2 separate regions of the Homo sapiens genome follow, and region 1 is linked to region 2. The links come from fine-mapping of genetic effects on gene expression. A gene starts in region 2. The other region holds a variant in brackets. All regions are shown on one strand. Distances are between the middles of the regions.

The links. PIP is the estimated chance that this variant, and not a neighbour inherited with it, causes the effect.
Region 1: its variant is fine-mapped to the expression of RAD21 in whole blood (TOPMed, PIP 0.94).

Annotation. Positions count from the first base shown.
Region 1 is chr8:116,889,707-116,901,717 of GRCh38, forward strand. No RefSeq gene overlaps it. Among named protein-coding and RNA genes, the nearest start is that of MIR3610, 21 kb to the left of the region's middle. The variant G/A (reference allele first, on the strand shown) is at 5,597.
Region 2 is chr8:116,868,530-116,880,540 of GRCh38, forward strand. RAD21 (RAD21 cohesin complex component) reads right to left here and starts at 6,247. Exons shown (of 14, transcript NM_006265.3): 1 at 6,082-6,247. It overlaps RAD21-AS1 (RAD21 antisense RNA 1), which reads left to right and starts at 5,895. Exons shown (of 2, transcript NR_033886.1): 1 at 5,895-6,456; 2 at 6,892-8,339. It overlaps MIR3610 (microRNA 3610), which reads right to left and starts at 6,271; the gene lies at 6,199-6,271. RefSeq lists silencers at 5,555-5,604, 5,765-6,084 and an enhancer at 6,195-6,244.

The sequences.
Region 1 (12,011 bases), 21 kb after region 2:
AGGCTGAGGCTGGTGGATCACTTAAGCTCAGGAGATCGAGACCAGCCTGGGCAATGTGGCAAAACCCCATCTCCACCAAAAATACAAAATGAACAAACAAATAGCCGGTTGTGGTGGTGCATGCCTGTGGTCCCAGCTACTCAGGAGGCTGAGGTGGAAGGATTGCTTGAGCCTGGGAGGCAGAGGCTATAGTGAGCTGAGATTGCACTCACAATGAAACAGTGTGATAAAAGTACAAAAAATTAACCCATGTATTGTTTAATAACTTTGCATTGCTAACTTTCAAATATTTCTGAAAGAAAACATATCGGGCCTATTCATCCTCTGCTCTCTCCAACTTCATTTGCTTTCTACATTGTGAAATCTCCTGTTTCCAGATTTAGTTCTTCAGAGAAGCAGCCTGTCCTTGGCTTGTCTGTTTGATGTTATGTAAATAATGGATAGAATTTTCCCTGTCCATGTTTTTTCTGAGATGGTTTTCTCAAAAAAATTTCCATTTCAAAAGCAAACTCCACAAATACACAAAAAATAACTAAACATGGAAAGAGGTTTAGTTGCCTTAGATTGTGCAAAAGACTAGAAGTAACCGCCAGATTCTCAGCCCCTGATTGTCCCAAATCACACGTCATCAACTGACTAACCAGAAAAGGAAAACAAGCCAGTTGCAGATGAAAGAAGATTTGATTCTAATACAGATTGTAAACCCACAATGACTGTTTTATAAGCAAAGAGTCACTTTTGTGACTGAATTTGAGTTTTCCACTGCAATGTTTCTTGAAAATTCCTAAAATATCATACATTATACATTATGCCAAACACTCAACTATTGAGCGGCAAGATTTTATTGTTTTTGGGAACACTCTTAACAGGCATTGGTAGGAAATGCAAAGAATTCCAGAAACAGAGCTGGACTGGAAAGAACACATTTATCATTAGTTCCATAAATCTATGTTTCTTAGGATTAGAAGAGGAATTTCTTGGACTGAGTAGGTTTTAAATATTCTGAGCCATTGGCAGAGGGAGCTAGGATTGTTCTGTGATGTTGTGAAATACATATTTGATCTTCATTCCATTTCCTGGAGTACAGCTCCTAAAATCCTTGGAATCTCCTGAGTGATAAGAGTTTTTTTTCTTTGTATGTTACTGAGATAACAGTGGCTAAGAGCACCTAGGTAGTTTCAGGATGGGGGTCACTGGAAAGACCAAGGCATGATTAGAGAGTTGGGAGTTTCAGCCTCCCCAACCCTACTCCCCAATCCCTGCAAGCAGCAGAGAAAGGCTGAAGGTTAAGTTGATCACCAATGGCTAATAATGTAATCAATCATGCCTATGTAATGAAGCCTCCATAAAAACCCAAAAGAATAGTGTTCAGAAAGGCTTCTGGATTGCTGAACACGTGGAGGTGTCTGGAGGGTGATATGCCCACAGAGGGCATGGAAATTTCACTTTCCTTTCCACATACATTGCCCTATGAATGTACTCTGTCTGGCTATTCATCCATATCTTTTGTAATATCTTACAGTTCATTTTGTTTGTGGGATCATATAAACTTGGGCTTGACTTATTGTTGTCATTTTATTTTCCTGATACTTTGTTTTCTTGTTGTGAAATGGGGATACAATACTTTATTAGTTGGGGCTCAGTTGTAGGTGACAGGAAACATTAGGATAATCAGAAAAGAAAGAGGTTAATCATGGGGAAGAGCTGGTTTTAGGCTATGTCTCTGGGATTGACTTCCAGAATGTCAACCAAGAACCAGCTCACCAAAGAAAGGGCTACCTCTGCAACCTTCAGAAAGCTGGGGAGTCAGGAAGACACTATCCCAAACTCTTGATTCCAGCGTCAGACCACCTTAGCTATGAACTGGAGTAAGAAGCTGCCACCAGCATTATAGACTCAGAGTCACATGGTGCATACAAATCCATTCAAGCAAAATGTATGTCACTGGCATCCCTACTTTCCTTCCTTTTATTTACTGATTAATGCAATACATATTTACTGAATTGTAGTAAAGAAGTAAAATATGTAATACATTAGAAAGAGATAAACGTAATACATTAGAAAGGGATAAATGCAATGACGAAAAGTAGTGTAGGAAATGGGATTACAGAAAATTGACAGCATCGGCCTTAGTCTGTTCGTGTTGCTATAAAGGAATACCCGAGGCTTGATAATTTATATATTTAAAAAAGAGGTTTATTTGGCTCATGGTTCTGCAGGTTGTACAAGAAGCATGATGTCAGCATTTACTTTTGGTGAGAGTTTCAGACTACTTCCACTTGTGGCAGAAGGAGAAGTGGAGCTGGCATGTACAGAGATCACATGGTGAGAAAAAAAGTGAGAGAGAAAGAAGGAGGTGTCAGGCTCTTTTTAACAACCAGCTGTTGTAGGAACTAATAGAGCGAGAACTCACTCATTACCTAGAACTCACTCATTACCTCAAGGATGGCACCAAGCCATTCATGATGGATCCACCTCCATGACTCAAACCCCTCCCACTAGGCCCCACCCTGAACATTGGGGATTATATTTCAACATGAGGTTTAGAGAGGTCAAGTATCCAAACCATAGCAGAGTCAAAGAAGACCTCCTTCAGAAGGTGATATTTATGTGAATATCTGAAGAAGGTGAGAGGACGAACCATGTGAGTCTTTAGGGGAGAAGTGTCCAGGAGAGGGAGGAGAAAATGCAAAGGCTCTGAGACAGGAGATTCCCTGGAAGGCAAGCAAAAGCAAAGAGGCCAGCATGGAAGGAGTGGAGTGAGTGAGGGAATGAGCCTGCTGTCAGAAATTCACATTGATTTCAAAGTAGAAATTTCCTAAGTAACTATTGCTTGGTTTTCTATATAGACAGTGTATAAGTATTTTAAACTAAAATATTCAAAGATTTTGATATAATTTAAATGAATATATGCTCCTTTAAATGAAAGGACAGAGCTACCAATATCACTATATTTGAAGCTACTGTTATTTTAAATAATAATCCGTGCTATTAACAATGTCATTATCTGGTTTGGTTTTTCTTTTTCCTCTTTTGGAGACAGGGTCTCACTCTGTTGCTCAGGTTGGAGTGCAGTGGCATAATCATGGCTCACTACAACCTCCACCTCCCTCCCACCTCAGCCTCCCAAATAGCTGGGACTACAGGCACATGTTACCACACCCAGATAGTATTTTTTGTATTTTTTTTTATAGAGACAGGGTTTTGTCATATTACCCAGGGTGGTCTTGAACTCTTGAGCTCAAGCAATCCACCTGCTTTAGCCTCCTGAAGTGCTGGGATTACAGGCATGAGTCACCATGCCTGGCCTTTTTTCCTTTTTTTATAAGACTTTTTTTAATCATAAAAAAAAGTCTGTCTTTGATGTGACTTTTTCATGTAGAATTAATGAGTTACATGATTGACTTCTACCTTTTGAAAGATTCTTACAGGCTTCATTTTTATAATAGCACAGTTATAATAGCTGAAAAAAATCTGAGTATAGCTTGTCAGATTCATCACTGAAATATGTTTTAAGGGTGCGGAATAATAAGTAGGCTGGCTTTGACACACTGCTTTTTTTCAATGGAAGGCTAAAAGTGAGAAAATAAACTCATTTCTGTAGGAGATAGAGATTTACATTTGTTTTCCTTTGACAAAATACTCCATTCTCACACATTATACACCATTTTAAGAAGATTAGTATTTGTCTGAGACAAAGTGATCTTAGACTTTCAGTTTAAATGGTGGCATAGAAGCAAGCTGGTCTTACTACCCCACCTCCTTGCCAGAAAACCAAAAACAAATATACAGCAACAACCCAGAATCAAATATGAGGATGAGACAGATCCTGGGGACACAGAGAAATGAGAGTACTTTGAGCAGATGGTGGGAGAATCAGACTTTCACATCCATGACACCCCATCCCCCCATTCTGCCTGGCAACTAGCACCTGGAAAATCTTCTCCAACTCATGGTTTCTACAAGGGAAGGAGTGAGATTGAGATGGCCAACCAGCTTTTCTACCATCTTGGATATCTTGGGAGGAGACCTGTTATTGTCTTAACCCAAGGGAAGCACTGTGGCTGCCTGAAGGGAGAAACTTCACAGAGGACAGGTGAAGACAAAGGAGGGAAGTGGAACTACCACCCCCAGCCCTGGAAACTCTGCTCTGCAACTTGGCAAAAGAAGACATCAAATCAGAATGGTTGTTCAGGAGCATCACACCATAGAAGGTACGTTTCATAGTTTCCTTGGGTGTAAACTCCTAGCTAGCCTTCTAACAGTGCCAGGTCCCTTTAGGACCTCACCCATTCAAAACGGACATCACTCTGATCATTTACCAAAGCCAAGGTGAACCTGGACTTAAGACACACCTAGGGCCAAAAAGAAGGCTGCAACATAGTGGTAAAGATTTTCTAGGCAAATATATCCACTAAAAAAACAAAACAAGCCTGTCAGAGGAAATTTGAAAAAATAATTAATCCTTCAATACAAAGGCATAGATGTATCCAGGAGGGAATGGAATGACATTTTCAAAGTGTTCAAAGAAAAGAAAATCTGCCATCCAAGAATATTGTGCCCAGCCAAATTATTCTTCAACTATGAAAGAGAGATAAAGTCTTTCCCAGACAAGCAAAAGTTGAGAGAATTCACCACCAGCAGATCTGTCTTACAAGAAATGCTGAAGGGAGATCTTCAGTCTGAAATAGAAAAAAAAATAATGCACAAAAAGAAAACTTTTCAAGGTGTAAAACCCACTGGTAGAATTAAGTACGTAGACAAACCAAGAATACTCTATTCCTATAATGGTGGTGTGCAATCTACTCACAACTCTGATAATAAAGCCCAAAAGACAAATCTGTCAAAAACAATAATAGCTACAGCAACTTATTAAAAGATATGGAATGTAAAAAATGTAAATTGAGACAACTAAAACTCAAAATATGAGGGTGATAGAGTTAAAGTGTAGATTTTTTCGTATGTGTGTTTTTTGCCTTTATTTCTGGTCTTTATTGTGTGATCTAAGGTAAATGTCATCTGTTTAAAATAACTTGTGATATCTATGGTTTTTTTTTGTAAGCCTCATGGTAACCATGCAAAAACCTATAATAGATTCACCAAAAATAAAAATGAAGAAATTAAAACATACTACCAGGGAAAATCACTTAAACATGGAAAAAAAAAAAGACTGAGAAAGGAAGACAGTAGTCTCAAAACAACCAGAAAATAGGCAATAAAATGGCAGTAGTAAGTCCTTACTTATCAATAACACTGACTATAAATGGTCTCAATTCTCCAATTAAAAGTCATAAAGTGACTGAATTGATAAAGAAACAAGACCCAACTATATGCTGCCTTCAAGAAACTCACTTCACCTATAAAGGCACACATAAGCTGAAAGTGAAGGGGTGGAAAAAATATTCCATGCAACTGGAAACCAATAAAAAGCAAAAGTAGCTACACTTATAACAGATAAACTAGAGTAAAAAGCTAAGGTTATAAAAAATCACGAAGAAGTTCACTATATAATGATAAAGGAGTCAATTTGGCAAGAGGATATAAAAATTATAAATATCTATGCACCTAACATCAGAGCTTCCAAGTATATAAAGCA[G/A]ATATTAATAGATCTAAAGGAAGAGATACACTGCTGTATAATAATAATAGGATATTTAACATCTCACTCTCAGTAATGGACAGATCATCCAGACAGAAAATCAACAAAGAAGCACCATGGTTAAACTATATACCAGATCAAATAGGCCTGACTGAAATTTATAGAACATTTCACCCAACTGCTACAGAATACACATTCTTCTCATCAGCACATGGCACATCCTCCAGGATAGACCATATGTTAGGACACAACGCAAGTCTGAACAAATTAAAAAATATGTAAATTGTATCAAGTGTTTTTTTCTGACCATAATGAAATAAAACTAGAAATCAGTAGCAAGAGGGACCTCAGAAAATACAAAAACACATGAAAATTAAACAACATGCTCCTGAAAAACCAATGGGTCAATGAGGAAATTAAGAAGGAAATTTTTTAAATTTCTCAAAGCCAATAAAAATGGAAATACAACATATCAAAATCTGTGGGATACATCAAAAACAGTCCTAAGGGAGAAGTTTATGGCGATAAATACATTTATCAAAAAGTAGGAAGTCTTCAAATACACAACCTAACAGTGCACCTGAAGAAACTGGAAAAGCAAGAAGAAACCAAGCCCAAAATCAGTAGAAGGAAATAAATAATGAAGATCAGAGCCAAAATAAATAAAATTGAGACAAAATTTACAGAAGATAGATGAAACAAGAAGTTAGTTTTTTGAAAAGGAAATTGACTAACCTTTAGCTAGACTGAGAAAAAAAGAAGACCTAAATAAATAAATTCAGTAATGAAAAAGGAGACATAATAAATGAGACTTCAGAAATACAAAGAATCTGTGGACAGTATTATGAACAACTATATACCAACAAATTGGAAAACCCAGAAGAAATGGACAAATATCTGGACATGTACAATTGATGAATATTGAACTACGAAGAAATAGAAAACCTCAACAAACCAGTATTGAGTAATGAGATCAAAGGCATAATAAAAAACCTCTCATCAATAAAAATTTCAAGACCTGATGGCTTCACTGCTGAATTTTGCCAAACATTTAAAGATAATAAACTAACACCAATTCTACTCAAACTCTTCAAAAAAACTGAAGAGGAAGGAACACTTCCAGACTCATTCTATGAGGCCAGCATTATGCTGAAACCAAAACCAGACAAGTACACAAGAAGAAAAAAATAAAATTACAGGCCAATATCACTGATGAACATAAATGCACAAAATCCTGAACAAAATACTAGCAAAACAATTTCAACAACAATCAAAAAGATCATTCATCTTGATCAAGTGGGATTATTCTAGGGATGCAAGGATGGCTCAACATATGCAAACTAATAAGTGTGACACATCACATTCACAGAATCAAGAACAAAAACCGTATGGTTATTTCAATAGATGCCAAAAAAGCATGTGATAAAATTCAGCATTCTTTATGATGAAAATCCTCATCAGAATGGGTATAAAAGGAACACACCTTAAAATAATAAAGGCCATATATGACAAACCCATGGCTAACATTGTACTGAATGGAGAAACATTGAAGGCCTTTCCTCTAAGGAATGGAACAAACACAAGGATGCCCACTTTCACCACTTTTTTTCAACATAACACTGGAAGTCTTGACTGGAATGACTAGGCAAAAAAAAAAAAAAAAAAAAATCAGTAAATTTGCAGGATACAAAATTAACATATAAAAATCAGCAGCATTTATATATACAAATAGTAAACAATCTGAAAAAGATATTAGGAAGGTAATTGCATTTACAATAGCTACAAAAATATCAAATACCTAGGAATCAATCTAACCAAAGAAGTGCAAGGTCAATACAAGGAAAACTATAAAATTCTGAAAAGAAATGAAATTAATATAATAATTAATATTGTTAAATTGACAATAATACCCAAAGCAATGCACAGATTCAATGCAATCCATATCAAAATACCAATGACATTCTTCACAGAGACAGAAAAAAAAATTCTATAATGTATCTGGAACCACAAAAGACCCTCAATAGCCAAGGTAATACTGAGCAAAAAGAACAAAACTGAAGGTATCACACTACCTGATTTCAAAGCTTACTATAAATTTATAGTAACAAAAACATCATGGTACTCACATAAAAATAGATACATACAACAACGGAACAGAATAGAGAATCCAGATATAGATACACACATTTACAGCCAACTCATCTTTGATAAAGGCACCAAGAAATAAAATGGAGAAGGGACAGTCTTTTCAGTAAGTAGTGCTAGAAAACTGGATATCCATATGCAGAAGAATTAAACTAGACCTCTATCTCTCACTATATGCAAAAATTCAGTCAATATGGATTAAACACTTAAATCTAAGACCTAAAACCATGAAACTACTAGAAAGAAACATTGGGGGAAAATCTCCAGGACACTGGCCTGGGCAAAGGTTTACTCTGTAAGATCTCAAAAGCACAAGTAACCAAAGCAAAAATAGACAAATGGGATTACATCAAGCTACAAGGCTTCTGCACAGCAGAGGAAACAATCAACAAAGTGAAGAGACAACTTACAGAATGGGAGAAAATATTTGCACACTATCCATCTGAGAAGGTATTAATAACCAGAACATATAAGAAGCTCAAACTATTTAATAGCAAAAAAATTAATTAAAAATGGGCAAAAGATTGGTATTAACATTTCTCAAAAGAAGACATACAAATGGCCAACAGTTACATGAAAAAATATTCAGCATTTGATATGGTTTGGCTGTGTCCCCACCAAAATCTCAACTTGAATTGTATCTCCCAGAAGTCCTACGTGTTGTGGGAGAGACCCAAAATACCCAGGGGGAGGTAATTGAATCATGGGGGCTGGTCTTTCCCATGCTATTCTCATGATAGTGAATAAGTCTTGTGAGAACTAATGGGTTTATCAGGGGTTTCTACTTTTGCTTCTTCATTTTTCTCTTGCTGCCACTATGTAAAAAGTGCCTTTTGCCTCCTGCCATGATTCTGAGGCCTCCCAGCCATGTGGAACTGTAAGTCCAATTAAACCTCTTTTTGTTTCCAGTTTTGGGTATGTCTTTATCAGCAGCATGAAAATGAACTAATATGGTAAATTGGTACCAGTAGAGTGGGGCGTTGCTGAAAAGATACCCAAAAATGTGGAAGCGACTTAGGAACTGGGTAACAAGCAGAGGTTGGAACAGTTTGGAGGGCTCAGAAAAAGACAGGAAAATGTGGGAAAGTTTGGAACTTCCTAGAGACTTGCTGAATGGTTTTGATGAAAATGCTGATAGTGACACGAAAAATAAGGTCCAGGCTGAGGTTGTCTCAGATGGAGATGAGGAACTTGTTGGGAACTGGAGCCAAGGTGACTCCTGTTATGTTTTAGCAAAGAGACTGGCAGGGTTTTGCCCCTGCCCTAAAGATTTGTGGAACTTTGAACTTGAGAAAGATGATTTAGGGTATCTGGCGGAAAAAATGTCTAAGCAGCAAAGCATTCAAGATGTGACTTGGGCGCTGTTAAAAGCATTCAGTTTTGAAAGGGAAACAGAGCATAGAAGTTTGGAAAATTTCCAGCCTGACAATGTGATAGAAAAGAAAAACCCATTTTCTGGAGAGAAATTCAAGCCAGCTACAGAAATTTGCATAAGTAGCAAGGAGCCTAATGCTAATCCCCAAGACCATGGGGAAAACGTCTCCAGGTCATGTCACAGACCTTCATGGCAGCCTCTCCCATCACAGGCCCAGAAGCCTAGGAGAAAGAAGTGTTTTTGTGGGCTGGGCCCAGGGCTGCCAAGCTGTGTGCAGCCTAGAGACTTGGTGCCCTGTGTCTCCGCTGCTCTAGTCATGGCTGAAAGAGGCCAATGTACAGCTTGGGCTGTGGGTTCAGAGGGTGGAAGTCCCAAGCCTTGGCAGCCTCCACATGATGTTGAGCCTGTGGGTGCAGAGAAGTCAAGAATTGAGGTTTGGGAACCTCTGCCTAGATTTCAGAAGATGTATGGAAATGTCTGGATGCCCAGGCAAAAGTTTGCTGCAGGGGCAGGGCCCTCATGGAGAACCTCTGCTAGGTCAGTGTGGAAGGGAAATGTGGGGTTGGGGTCCTCACACAGAGTCCCTACTGGGGCACTGACTAGTGGAGCTGTGGGAAGAGGGCCACCATCCTCCAGGTCCCAGAATGGTAGATCCACTGACAGCATGCACCATGCACCTGGAAAAGCCACAGACACTCGACGCCATCCCATGAAAGCAGCCAGAAGGGAGGCTGTACCCTGCAAAGCCACAGGGGTGGAGCTGCCCAAGACCACGGGAACCCACTTCTTGCATCAGCTTGACTAGGATGTGAGACCTAGTCAAAGGAGATCATTTTGCACCTTTAAAATTTGACTGCCTGCTGGATTTGACTTCCCCGCATGGGCCCTGGAACCCCTTGTTTTGGCCAATTTCTCCCATTTGGTATGGCTATATTTACCAATACCTGTACCCCCATTGTATCTAGGAAGTAACTAGCTTGCTTTTGATTTTATAGGCTCATAGGCGAAAGAGACTTGTCTTGTCTCAGATGAGACTTTGGACTGTGGACTTTTGGGTTAATGCTGAAATGAATTAAGACTTTGGGGGACTGTTGAGAAGGCATGATTGGTTTTGAAATGTGAGGACATGAGATTTGGAGAGGCCAGGGGTGGAATGATATGGTTTGGCTGTGTCCCCACCAAAATCTCAACTTGAATTGTATCTCCCAGAAGTTCCACGCATTATGGGAGGGACCCAGGGGGAGGTAATTGAATCATGGGGGCTGGTCTTTCCCATGCTATTCTCATGATAGTCAATAAGTCTCACGAGATCTGATGGATTTATCAGGGGTTTCTGCTTTTCTTTCTTCCTCATTTTTCTCTTGCTGCCACCATGTAAGAAGTGTCTTTTGCCTCCTGCCATGATTCTGAGGCCTCCCCAGTCATGTGGAACTGTAAGTCTAATTAAACCTCTTTTTGTTTCCAGTTTCGGGTGTGTCTTTATCAGCAGTGTGAAAATGAATTAATACATCATCACTAATCATCAGAGAAATGCAAATCAAAATCACAATGAAATATCATCTCATTCCAGTTAAAATGGTTTGTATCAAAAAGGCAATAACAAATGCTGGTAAAGATGTGGAGAAAGGGGAACCCTTGTACACTCTTGGTGGGAATGTAAACTAGTACAGCCAATATAGACAACAGTATGGAGCTTCCGCAAAAACTAAAAACAGAACTACCAGCAATTCTAATACTGAGTATATATACAAGAAAAAGGAGATCAATATATCAAAGAGATATCTGCATTCCCACATTAATTGCAGCACTATTCACAATAGCCAAAATATGGAATCAACCTAAGTGCCAATGGATGGATGAATGAATAAAGAAAATGTAGAATATACACATAATTATTCAGCCATAACAAACAATGAAATCCTGCCATTTGCAACATGGTTGGAACTAGAGGCTATTATGTTAAGTGAAATAAGCCAAGCACAGAAGGACAAATATCACATGTTCTCACTCATATGTGAGAACTAAAAGAGTGGATCTCATGAAGATAGAAGATTGTTGGTTACCAAAGGCCAGGAAGAGTGGGAGGGAGAAGGGTTTGAAGGGAAAAAAAGAATATAAATGGAGCCATTATCACTTAATTGTACACTTAAAAATGGTAAGAATGGTAAATTTTATATGTATATTTTATCTCAATAAAAACCCCACAAAATTGCAAAAATTATTACTTTGTAATTATAAGCATATACTAGCCTAGGGATTAGAAGGAATACATGGTGGTGGGTTGAGGAGAAAACTATGCCAAAGACGTGTCTAAGAGAGCAGTCTTAAAAAAGGATTTCTTAACCTTTGCATTGTCATTAGGGGTGGACAATTTTCTGTTGTGGGATGCTATCTTCCGCCTAGGATGTTTATTAGCAGTAATCCTGGTATTTACGTGCTAGATGCCAGTAACATCTCCCCTCAGCCCTCCACCCCTGCCCTGCCCTGATGTAATAACCAAAAATGTCTCTAGACATTGCTAAATATCTCCTGGGGGCAAAATTATTCAGGGCTGAGAACCACTAAGTTGGAGTCAGAAGAGTGAAACAATTTTAAAAATTAGCTGGGTGTGGTGGTGCATGTCTGTAGTTCCAGCTACTCAGCATTGCTTGAGCCCAGTAGTTTGAGGCTAGACTTGGCAACAGCTCTGCATGCTGTATAGAGGTAGAGACCCTGAAAAAAGAAAGAATGAAAGAACGAAAGAAAGCAAGAAAGAAAGAAAAAAGAAAAAAATTGATCTAATCTTGAAATGTGAAGGAGACATCTCACTGCACAGAAACATAGAGAACAACTGTTTGTAATAATTATTAGTTTAATATATATTTTCTTTGCTAGATTGTAAGATGCACGAGGACA
Region 2 (12,011 bases):
AAGTATTGTTAAGTATATGTTTAGTTTTTAAAGAATCTTTAATACAATTATCAAAATGAGTTTTTTTATATTTATAGGCAAGATTATCAAATTTATATAGAAAAGCAAATAAACTAAAAAAGCTAAAACTATTTTGAAAAATAGTGAGAAAAATTAGTCTATTTGATTTCAAGACTTACTATATAGCTATAATACTCAAGATTGGTATTAGCAGAGGAAACACAGTCAATGTAACAGAACTGAGAACCCAGAAATAGCCCGCACAACTAAGTTCAACTAATTTTTTTTTTTTTTTACAAAGATGCAAAAGCTATCTAATGGAGAAATGATACATTTTTCAACAAATGGTGCTGGAGTGATTAAATACGATCTGAAGACCAGAAAACATGCACGCACGCACGCACACACCCCCCACAAAACAAAAAAGGCAAGGAAAAAACCCTCCACCTAAATCTCACACATTATATAAAAATTCAAAATAGACAAAACTTTTAAAAAATGGCAGAGGGGAACCTTCAGTACCTAAAGCTTGGTAAAAATTTTGACACATCAAAAACACAACCCATGAAGGAAAAGTTCTTGCTCAATAAACTCGCCTTTATCAAATTAAACTTTTGCTCTACGAAAGAAATGCAAAGACAAGCTATAGACTGGGGAAAAAATATTTGTAAACCACACATCTGACTAGAACTCAGATATAGAATATGTAAAGAATTCTTAAAACTTCAGGGGTAAGAAGAAAAAAAAACTCCAATTAGAAAGTAAGCAAAAGAGGCCAGGCAGGCTGGCTCATGCCTGTAAACCCAGCACTTTGGCAGGCCAAGACAGGCAGATCACTTGAGGCCAGGAGTTCAAGACCAGTCAGGACAATTTGGCAAAACCCTGTCTCTACTAAAAAACACAGAAACTGCTACGTGTGGTGGCATGTGCCCGTAATCCCAGCTACTCAGGTGGCTGAGGCAGGAGGATTGCTTGAACCCAGGCTGTGGAGGTTGCAGCGAGCTGAGATCGCGACACTGCATTCTAGCCTGGGTGACACAGCAAGACTCTGTATAAAAAGAAAAAAAAAAGTGAGCCAAAGAAGAGAAATTTCACAGAAGAGGTTTACTGATGACAAATAAGAACATGAGATGTTCAATTATCCTAGGCATTTGAGAAATACAAATTAAGGCCAAAAACATTATCACCACACACTTAATATAAGAGCTAAATTAAAAAATAGTGGCAACATCAAATGCTGAAAGACACAGAGAAGCTGGATCTCTTACACTGCAGGTGGGACTAAAATCTCTTGAATTAGCTTTTCTCTAAAAGATACAGAGTAATTATTTTTCATTTTTTCACAGTCTGTAAATCTTAAAGAATTTTGCTTACTGTACTTTCAATTAAAAATGTGCCAATTCTTTCCCATGATGTAGAGAAAATATATTTTAGTTACGCGTATCACAAGCAACAGATTTCTTACATGTCAAAAATATTTTGGAGGGTGGGGGGCTGTGGTGCAAGACTACTGCAGTCAGGTTTGCTTTATCTCCATTTCCATCACTTAAGAGTAAAGAGTCTTGAAATTCTCATTCTCTGAATCTAATGTTCCCAAAGGATTATTAATTCATACTAAAAAAACTTTTCCTCAAAAGAAAAAAAACCAGGCTTTGTCAACTGTCTAATGTTGTAAACTCTTCCTCCCAAATTTGGAGTTAAGGAAGGAAGAAATTGGCTAGCGGTGGTGGCTCACGCCTGCCATCCCAGCCCTTTGGGAGGCCAAGGTAAGAGGAATGCTTGAGGGCAGGAGTTCCAGACCACCCTGGTCAATATAGCAAGACCCCGTGTTTATTTTTTAAAAAAAAGAAATTAAAGAATGAAGAAATACTATATTCTATACTAAGAACTCAGACAAAATATTCTTAAGGTACGAGCATTAAATAACACCTCAAAGGTGCTTTATTTGCCATTTGTTATTTTATAGATTAAAACATGCTTCCCATACCGGAAGAGAGCCTCCTATGTTTCAAATCAGTGCCTACTTCAAGCCTTAAAATGTTATCACAAAACTTAAGCTGCTCCTACTATGTTATAAATAAAATCTAGAGAACTTTACAGAAATCCAACATAGCAGCATGTTCTGAGAAATATAATCGCTGTTGTACAGGACAAGCCCCAAGTTCCACTATGGAAGCAAGCAACTGTATCCTAAACAAAAAACTCCTTAATATTAAGCTTCTAGAATACTATCTGTGGCATGACAATTACTAAATATGTGCTTAATGAATAAGTAAGTAAGATCCACCAAGTGATCTCATAATTGGCATATGTAAAAAATTTTAGACGTTTTAAAAATTAAAACTACTGGCATTTTTCAACAGGTGTCAGTAGCTCCTGGCCAGCACTTCAGCTGCTGGTCAGAGCACCGTGCCTAAAATATCCCAGCTATGCAGAGGCAGAGATTCCTAAACAGAAGCCTGTTTGGCATAGGATGGGGCTAAGGAAGGCAGAGTGATGCTAAAATTAATGTGGGAAACAATTAGCAAGAGGAAATCACTCTAATAACTAAAGGAAGCCAAAGGAGCAGTGGTGGATCGACTCCTGGTGTATATCTGAATAAGGAGAAAGTGTAATTATAATTGCCTTTTAAGCCTATTTTTTTTTCCTTGATAATACCAAACTTCATCCAATCTTTAAAAAAGTCGATTAATCTGTTTAGATTTTGAAGATTCTATATTCTGCTAAATCCTTTATGAAAACCCTGTGCAGAAAATCTGCATTTGATACCAGAGCACAACTTAGCATTTCATGATTTGAGAATCATTTTTTTCTAAAGCGGCAAGCAGTTTTTTTCAATTGACCCTAAAAAATTAAAGTCTGATGTGAAACAGCAGAAAGATTGCTATTTTAGAACATATTCAAGAATACAAAAAATGGCAATTTAAGACTGTTTCAAAGAATCAAACTGAGGCTCATGCTTCTAGGATAGTATCAGTCATTACCAATATTTCACTCATTAGAAAGCATGGCAGGACTGCGGTTGTGTAAATTGGTACTGTCCTCTCTGAAGGACAATATGACAACATTTTATAAAAATTTCACTTACACTTTCTAGCCAGAACTTGCACTTTCAGTAATCAATACAAAAGATATACTTGGAGATGCATATTACTAAAGACAAAACCAAAAAACCAAACACGAAAAAATCCTAAGAAAACTTACTAAGCACTACGTGTTTTATGTATCCAACCTCTTCATGACTGTCCTACAGAAGTAAATTACTGGCCCATTTTAGAGATGGAGAAAACAGATGAAGATAAGTAAATGTCACTAGTATTTAATGGAAGTGGAACTTGAACTTCAGAATCCACACTTCTAACTACAACACTATGCTGCCTTGCCAGAGCAGAACAGAACATTCGAAATAACCTACTTGGCCATCAATAAGTGATATGAAAAATTAATAAACCCAAACAACGGAATATAGTCGGTCCTCCTTATCCATGGCTTCTTGCATCCATGGACTAAACCAACCCAGGATCAAAAATTGTTGGAGGGGGGGACAAAAAAACACAATAATAAAAAATACTACTAATAAAAAACTATAACAACTATATTAACTATTAACATAGCATTTACATTGTAATATCATAAATGGAGATGATTTGAAGTATATGGGATGTTAGTAGGTTATATGCAAATACTACACTATTTCATATAAGCGACTTGAGCATTCGTGGTTTTGGTTCTGGAACCAATTCCCCTTTAATATCAAGGGACAATTGTACAGTACAACTTTAAACAAGAATACAACATTTGTACTAACATGGAAAATCTCCAGGTTAAGTGCAAAAAAGTTGGAGTTTTAAAAAAGAATGCTCTTTCTCTATATATTTACGAGTTCTTGAATAAGCTTAAAATACCTGTGGCGTACACATGAAACTGGTGATACTGGTTACCTCTGGAAAGTAGGTATGCAGGGCAAGTGAGGCCTACCTTTTTGTACTGTTTGATATATATATATACATACACACACACACACACACACACACACATATTTTAACTCGGGACATAAATGTACACCACCTATTCAAAGTAAAAACTACTATCTCAGAAGTAAAGACATAATCCTGCTATTGTCATTAACTAGCAGTTAAGCTGCCTAACCTTTATGCAGTTCAGTTTCCCTACTATGAAAACCTGAAAGGTTGAAATCTGGTGGTTTACCTAACCTTTGAAAACGTCAATACCTAACTCAGATCAGAACGGAGCTACCTCTTCAGGGGAGTAGGGGGAAGGATCTCTGAAGATATTTCTAACCCTGCACACTAGAAATCTCCTCTGTTTTGGTTCTAACATCCTTTGACCAAGAGTTTTACAATCAGACAGTCGTAGGTTCAAATTAAGCTCCCTCTTTGCTCAGTTGTTTTGTAACGGTGAATAAGTTACTTCTCAACTATAAACTGGGATAATATTCATCAAAAAAGATTATGAAAATTAAATACAAGGGCACACCTAACATAGTGCCACTGCTGATGCGAAAAGTAACTCTGAAGACAATCTTGCAGCAAAACATTAACCAGCCAGTATAATCATGCCTAACAACTCTGGTTTGACATTTAAACTAAAAACACAACCTTATTTCTCAAGAATTAGAAAATTTCCATTCTGTACCAAACTGTAAAAGCGTTTCTTAGAATTTGTATGTTTCACAAAATAATTCACCAGAAATTCTTTTGTAATTCTGACTTGTGTATAAAAAAAAGCACTATGTCTATTAGTTATGCACTGCTGTCACCTCAACTATACAAACTGTTAACTTATTTGAAGATCAGATATGGCGTATGTCCTCATCAATGCCTTTCCAAAAATAATTAGTTGCCTCCGACATTAACAAAGGTATTTAATGACTTCACGATTTGAGAAACCTTCTCCTGCCTGTCTCCAAAATTCTATAGACTCGCACTGCCCGCTGGCATTTACACCCAATTTAAGAAAATAGAAATTTTTGCCTGAAAACCAATTACTCTTCTAACCAGTATAATGACAACAAAGATTAACTTTCCCTTGCAAAAAGAAGCCGATAAACACAAGCCTTTCCCAGAAACTCTTCGCACAAACGCTGTTTTTTTTTTCACGCTGAAGACACTAACAAATCAGAGTGACCAAGTAAATCCCCCAGGGTTTCCCTCTTACAAATTTGAAGAAGGCCGCTAAGTCTGGCAGCACAACCCGACAGTGTCACCCCACACTATCAAAGCGGATCATTCGCAAAAAGCCTTTTTCAGCGACGAAAAGGGCATCAAGCATTTATCAGAAACACACACCTCCCCCAGAGCGTCTCTACAACACCCGATATCCTTAATCACTTTAAAGAATGATCAGAAAAGTTCAGGGGAAAACCAATTATGCAAATATCCTTGGAAAAAGAAGCAACTTCCCTCCGTCTCTTTTTCCACGCGTCTGTGAAATATTCAGCATTCCCAACGTAAAAATTATCTTTTTAAAACGGGAGGGCAGCAGCAGTCACTGGCCGAGGGGCACCCGCCGACCCCCCGCCCCACCCCGCCCAGCCCCACCAGCTCCGCACTTTCTTGAGCCCCGCACCCGAGTTCGGCGGAAGGTTGCTGCTCCCGGGGCTGGCACCGCGGGCGCCGGGCCCGCCACCGCCTCCTCCCAGACAGCCATTTTTACCCGCGGAGTAGGCGGCCCGGTCCCCAGAGCGGGCTCGTTCAAACCTCCTCCCCTCCCTCCGCAGCCCAGGGTTTCCCCGGCCTCCTGGGGGACGTGAGATGGACCTGCAGGGTAACAGCCTTTGTAGATCTCAGAATGGATCAGAATCATTTGTTACCGAACAAGCGATGATGCGGGCCCAAGCTGCATGGGTCCGGGCCGAGGGCGGGCCCGGGGCGAAGGGGGCTGGGCGGGTGGCGCCGCCGCTTGGGCGCCGGGAGGGTGGCAGCACGCGTGGGCGCGGCGAGGGCTGCCTTCTCCCTCGCCCTCCCGCCCCCAGGAGTCCGGCTCCCCGACGGCAGAGCGGCGGGGAAAGGGTGGGGGGAGGGAGCTGGAGGAAAAGAAGGGGTCGGCCGAGTCTCTTACCTTGCTCTCCGCTGGGAGTTGGGCGGGCTGGGTGGCCCGGGGAGGGGAAAAGGGTCGGGGGAGGGGGTGGGGAAAGGGGGGAGCCCTTGCGAGGTGTAGCTTCCGAGCAGCTCCCGCCGCCGCCACAGCCGGCGCCTCCTTTCCGATTCACTCAAACAAACAAGATGGCTGCCGTTACGCCGCGGCTCTTCCTGCCGCCCAAATCCTCGGTTCAAATCGGCAGGATGTTTACGGTCAAAATGGTACCTGTGCGCCTGCGCAGCCAGCCCAAGCCCCCCCCTCCCCCCAGAAGGAGCGGCGCAGGCGCAATGACTATTTCCTTTTCTTTGGAACCCGCCCTCTGTTTGTGGAGTCCACAACTGAGCAAGCGCAAAGGTGATTCTCTTGCGAGGGTCTTTGAGAGTTGCGGTGTTAGCCAATAGCGTAAGATAGCGCACGCGCAGTGCTTTCCAGTGCGGTGAATATTTGCGTTTAGCTTTATTCTTGTGCTTGTTTTAAAGAAAAAAGCTGTCGTGGTGCAATTTTGTGTGCCCCCACCAAAAAATTCATTTTATGGCTCTATAGGGATGAAAGTAACATAAAAACCTCAAACTAATTCCATAAAATATAGAGGTTCATTTATTCAGTCAACCTATATTATAGAGGGTCTTCTGTTTGCTACACGTTGGGCTCTGGATATAATGATTAATATAACAGAGATAATAACTGCCTTTTGGAAATTTTCAGTATTGCTTGGGAGGAATCTTAAAATTTCTTATCTTAAAAGACTTACTTGTACCACGAAGAAATTTACTTTTGTTTTTATTGTAGAGATCTTTCCAGTGATGAAAGAAATTGAAGAGGACACACAAAAATGGAAATATATTCCATGTTCATGGATTGGAAGAATCAATATTGTTAAAATTTCCATACTACCCAGAGCAATCTACAGATTCAATGTAATCCCTATCAAAATATCAATGACATTCTTCACAGAAAGAGGAAAAAAATCCTAAAATTTATATGGAACCACAATAAGACCAAGAATAGCCAAAGCAATCCTGAGCAAAAGAATAAAGCTGGAGGCATCACATTACCTGACTTCAAATTATACTACAAAGTGATAGTAAACAAAACAGCATGGTGCTGGCATAAAAACAGACACATAGACTAACGGAACAGAATAGAGGACCTATAAATAAATCAATACATATACAGTCAACTAATTTCTGACAAAGCTGCCAAGAACATACGTTGGGAAAAGGATGGTCTCTTCCAAAAATTGTTCTGGAAAAACTAGATAACTATATGTAGAAGAATGAAACAGATCACTATCTTTTGCCATATTAAAAAAATCAAAACAAAATGGCTTGAAGACTGGAATCTAAGATTTGAAACTATTGAAACTACTAGAAGAAAACGTTAGGGAAATGCTCCAGAACCAAATATTTCTTAGTAAGACCTTAAAAGCATAGGCAAGCAAAGCAAAAATGGACAAATGGGATCATGCCAAGCTAAGAACCTTCTGCAAAGCAAACAACAAAGTGAAGAGACAACCCATCAAGTGGGGGAAAATACTTGCAAACTACTCATCTATCACAGAATTAATAGCCATAATATATAAGGAGCTCAAACAATATAATAGGAAAATAATCCAATTAAAATTGAGCAAAAGACCTGAATGGTTATTTCTCAAAAAAGACATACAAATGGCCAACAGGGATATGAAAAAATGCTTAACATCACTAATCATCAGAGAAATGCATATCAAAACTAGGATGAGGTATAATCTCATCCCAGTTGAAATGGCTTTTATCCAAAATACAGGCAATAATGAATGCTGATAAAGATGTGGAGAAAGAGAAACACTCGTACACTGTTGGTAGGAATGTATGTTAGTACAGCACTGTGAAGAACAGTATAGAGATTCCTTAAAAACCTAAATATAGAGCCACCATATGAGCCAGCAATCCCACTCCTGAGTAAATACCCCCCCCCAAAAAAAAAGGAAATCAGTACATCAGAGTGGTATCTGCCCTCTCACATTTATTGCAGCAAGATTCACAATTGTCAAGATATGGTATCAACGTAAGTGTCCATCAGTGGATAGATGGGTAAAGAAAATGTGGTACACATACACAAGATAATATTTTTCAGCCATAAAAAAGAAAAAAAGTCCTTTCATTTGCTGCAACATGGATAGAACTGGAAGACATTAAGTGAAATAAACCAGGCACAGAAAGACATTAGTGTGAATGTTCACACTAATATGTGGGAGCTTAAAAAAAAAAAAAAGAACTCATTGAGATAGAAGGTAGAATGATGGTTACCAGAGCCTGGGAAAGGTAGTGGGGAGGGGGCAGATGAGTACAAAATCTGCCCCCTCAGATTTGGTACAAAAATACAATTAGAAAGAAGGAATAAAGTCTAGTGTTTGGTAGCACAATAGGGAAACTATAGTTAATAACTTACTATATATTTCAAAATAACTAAAAGAGTGGAATTGGAATGTTTCTAACACAAAGAAATGATAAATACTTGAGGTGATGGATACCCCAATTACCATGGTTTGTTACACATTGTATGCTTGTATTGAAATGTCAGACGTACCTTATAATTGTGTACAACTATTATGAATCCATAATAATAAAAACGTATTTTAAAAAGAAATTTTGTGTCCAGTTTCTGAATGTATTTTCATTTTAAAGTAAAACACACAGGAAAAGCAGACATTTAAGTCCATATACTCCTCATTGTCAGCAACCACTACTTCTGGACACTTCCAGGATTTTAATGACACACAGAACACCTCACTTTTACCCTTCTTATGCTGATATAGGAGATGGATAAGAAAGTGGACAGTCTTGTGCTCCACTCACTGTGGGTCCACTGTTTTTGGGTTGGGGCAAGGTTCGTCTCACTGGCTGGAGTCCATTAGCTAAGTGGCCATACTGGCCACAGCTCAAAGCTTTATCAAGTGAATTTCTGTTGTAGTTAGCCAAATATTTTATGTTCTTTTGGTTTGTTTTTAATGGAGACTTTAAGAAATTGGCATTAAGGATAGTTGTTAAAATCCCAAGCTGGGGAGTGAAGGAGTACAAGCACTTTTAACATTTTAAGCATGCTTTCCCTCGACCAATATAGATTAGATGCTCAAAGCACTTAAATCCTTCCTGCTGGTGTGGCTTTAAGCAAACTCAACAGTGGCAGTTGTTGCATCATCTCAAAAAAAAAAAAAATACAAGCTCATTAACAATTAAACTCCTTGCAACAGAAATTAGATTTCTGCCAGTGAACAATTTAATTCTTCACTTCAAAATAATTTCGGTGTATCAGCTGCTAAATGACCTCAAAACTAATCATGTGGGAAAAGTCTCCTGTCAGGTTAAGAATCACACAACCATGTTGCATGGTGAAGACGTTGTCGTTCATATTAAATTTCAGTTTAAATCAATCCCAGCTTCAAACTATGGCCAGGTGAATATGCATTGCCACTTCTTGTCTCTCTTATATTACATTAGCTTTTAGAGTTTTTGTTCATGGAACCATATATTTTTCATCTGTATTTGAATAAAAACAATTCTCTTTTCCTCATTTCTAGCAGCAAGTCTGATTCTAATATTTAAATCAACAGGCTTACCTTTTTCTTAAGACATTTATTTTTCTACTTTTGGGGGATGGTTATGAACATGGGCTTTGGGTTCAAATTCTTCTCTTCTACCTCCCAGCTGTTTTAACATGTACAATTAATGTCTGAGCTTTGATTTCTTTATTAATAAAATGAGGGTAATACTTGTCATGATGTTTGAAATAATTCAATAGGATCACATACACAAAGTGCTTAGTATAGTGCTTGGAACTGAGTAATTAATAAATGGCAGGTATTACTCTAGTTTTATCTGCTTTCTGAATAATAAGATATCAAGCAAGGTATGGGAAATATTTATCAGATATTCAATTTATAAGAACATCAGTAAACACCGGGATACTCTGCCCCATTCTGACTATATCCTGTTTTATGTTTATATTTGAAAATTATTCTCTCTCTCTCTCTGTCTTCTCTCTCCTCTCTCTCTCTGTCTTCTCTCTCTCTTCTCTGTCTCTCTCCATCTTTCTCTTACATGCTGTTCTCCTACCCCAAGTTACCTCCCAAAGTACTACATTTCTTTTCTCTTGAACTATTTATTCTTACTCAGAGCTCCCAACTCTGAGCCCGCCTTCCCATTTGTAGATTTTAATATAGTTTCTTCACATACAGTCCTAATCCCCTAAATGGCTGGATTTGATTCTTTGAACAAGTTGTATGTTTTATTCTGGCTTGGAGTCTCCTCTTATCAACATACCCATCCACCTCCTTGTATTAAAATGTCAAGTTAAATTTCTTATTGCAGGAGTTAGCTGCAGTATCTCTTCTCCCTGGAAATACTTATCTGATGAATGTGCATTTGTCAAAATTAGTAATTGTGAATTTGTTTGACTAAAACCATGAGAGGACAGATTTCAGTTACAGATTTTGTCTTTCTTCAGTTGCAAATGGTATGCTTTCCTTTTCTGATTAGTCAGTTGATGACTTGTATGATTTGGGGAAATCACTGAGAAACTGGGTGTTGCCACTGTCTTGAGTATATCTATAAAAACAGCTGCGTTCTGTCTATATCACGTTATTTTATGATGACACCCCCCCCACACACACAACTGAGAGTTTTTTTTGTGAGATAAAAACTGTTATGGCAAAAAAAGAGAGAAAATATACTGTTATAGAAAAAGATGATAAAACTTACAGTAGCAGATTTGTTTAAGATTTACATATACTGTTGTAGACTTGCTCCTCTGAACTGGCAAACTTTTAAAACAGGATTCTCTATAACATTAAAATAATTATAGAATCCCAGCACTTTGGGAGGCCGAGGTGGGTGGATCACAAGGTCAAGAGAGCGAGACCATCCTGGCCAACATGGTGAAACCCCGTCTCTACTAAAAATACAAAAATTAGCTGGGAGTCGTGGCACATGCCTGTAGTCCCAGCTACTAGGGAGGCTGAGGCAGGAGAATTGCTTGAACCTGGGAGGCAGAGGTTGCAGTGAGCTGAGGTCATGCACTCCAGCCTGGCGACAGAGGGAGACTCGAGTCTCAAAAAAAAAAAGTATTATTATTATTATAGTAAGTAGGAGGAATTAGGTGAAGAGAAGAATAAGACAAGAAAATAGATATTTCAATGTTCGGGAGGATGGGTATTAAACATGTGGTGCACCAGGTTTTTAAAAATTTTTATTTAAATAAAAATCAAAGTATAAAATATGATGATCAAAGAAAAGTTCAGAAAGAGTGAATAGCCTTTTTAAGGTTTTGGGCTAAGCAAAGAAAAATGGACTGAAAGTGACTTTAAAAACTGTAGATTCTGGCTTTCCTTCTAGTGCCAACAGTATCCTTACAAGGGGTTTTGGTCAAAAAGGGAATGCATTTTAAGGACAAAATTCAAGGAAGAAATGTCATAATCAGACATAAACATTATATGAGATGTAGGGGAATTAAGGACAAAATGTCATTATTTGAAACAATTCCTAATTCACTAGATATTAATTAAATTAGTGATAATAGTGTGTGCATGTGTGTGAGAGAGAGAGAAAAAGAAAGAGAGAGAGAAACCGAGAGAAAGAGTTTTGTAAGCCTTAGAAAACATAGGTTTCATTCACAGTCACATCCTCAACTTCAAGCAGAAGCTGAGGTTTGAGTTTTAACGTTTGAGCTGAGGTTTGGGGTTTGAGGCAGGACTCCAGAAAGCGGCTGCAAGCATCCCTATTATGGCTGGGCTAAGGGTCTGCTCACGCAGGTATGTATCAGCAGTGGAAAATCACCAGGGGCCAGGAGTGGGCCCAGGGATAATAGGGGGTAGTCTCTGGGCCAGATGGAAATGTGAGTTTATCAAGGACCGAAGTGGAGATGAGGGGAAG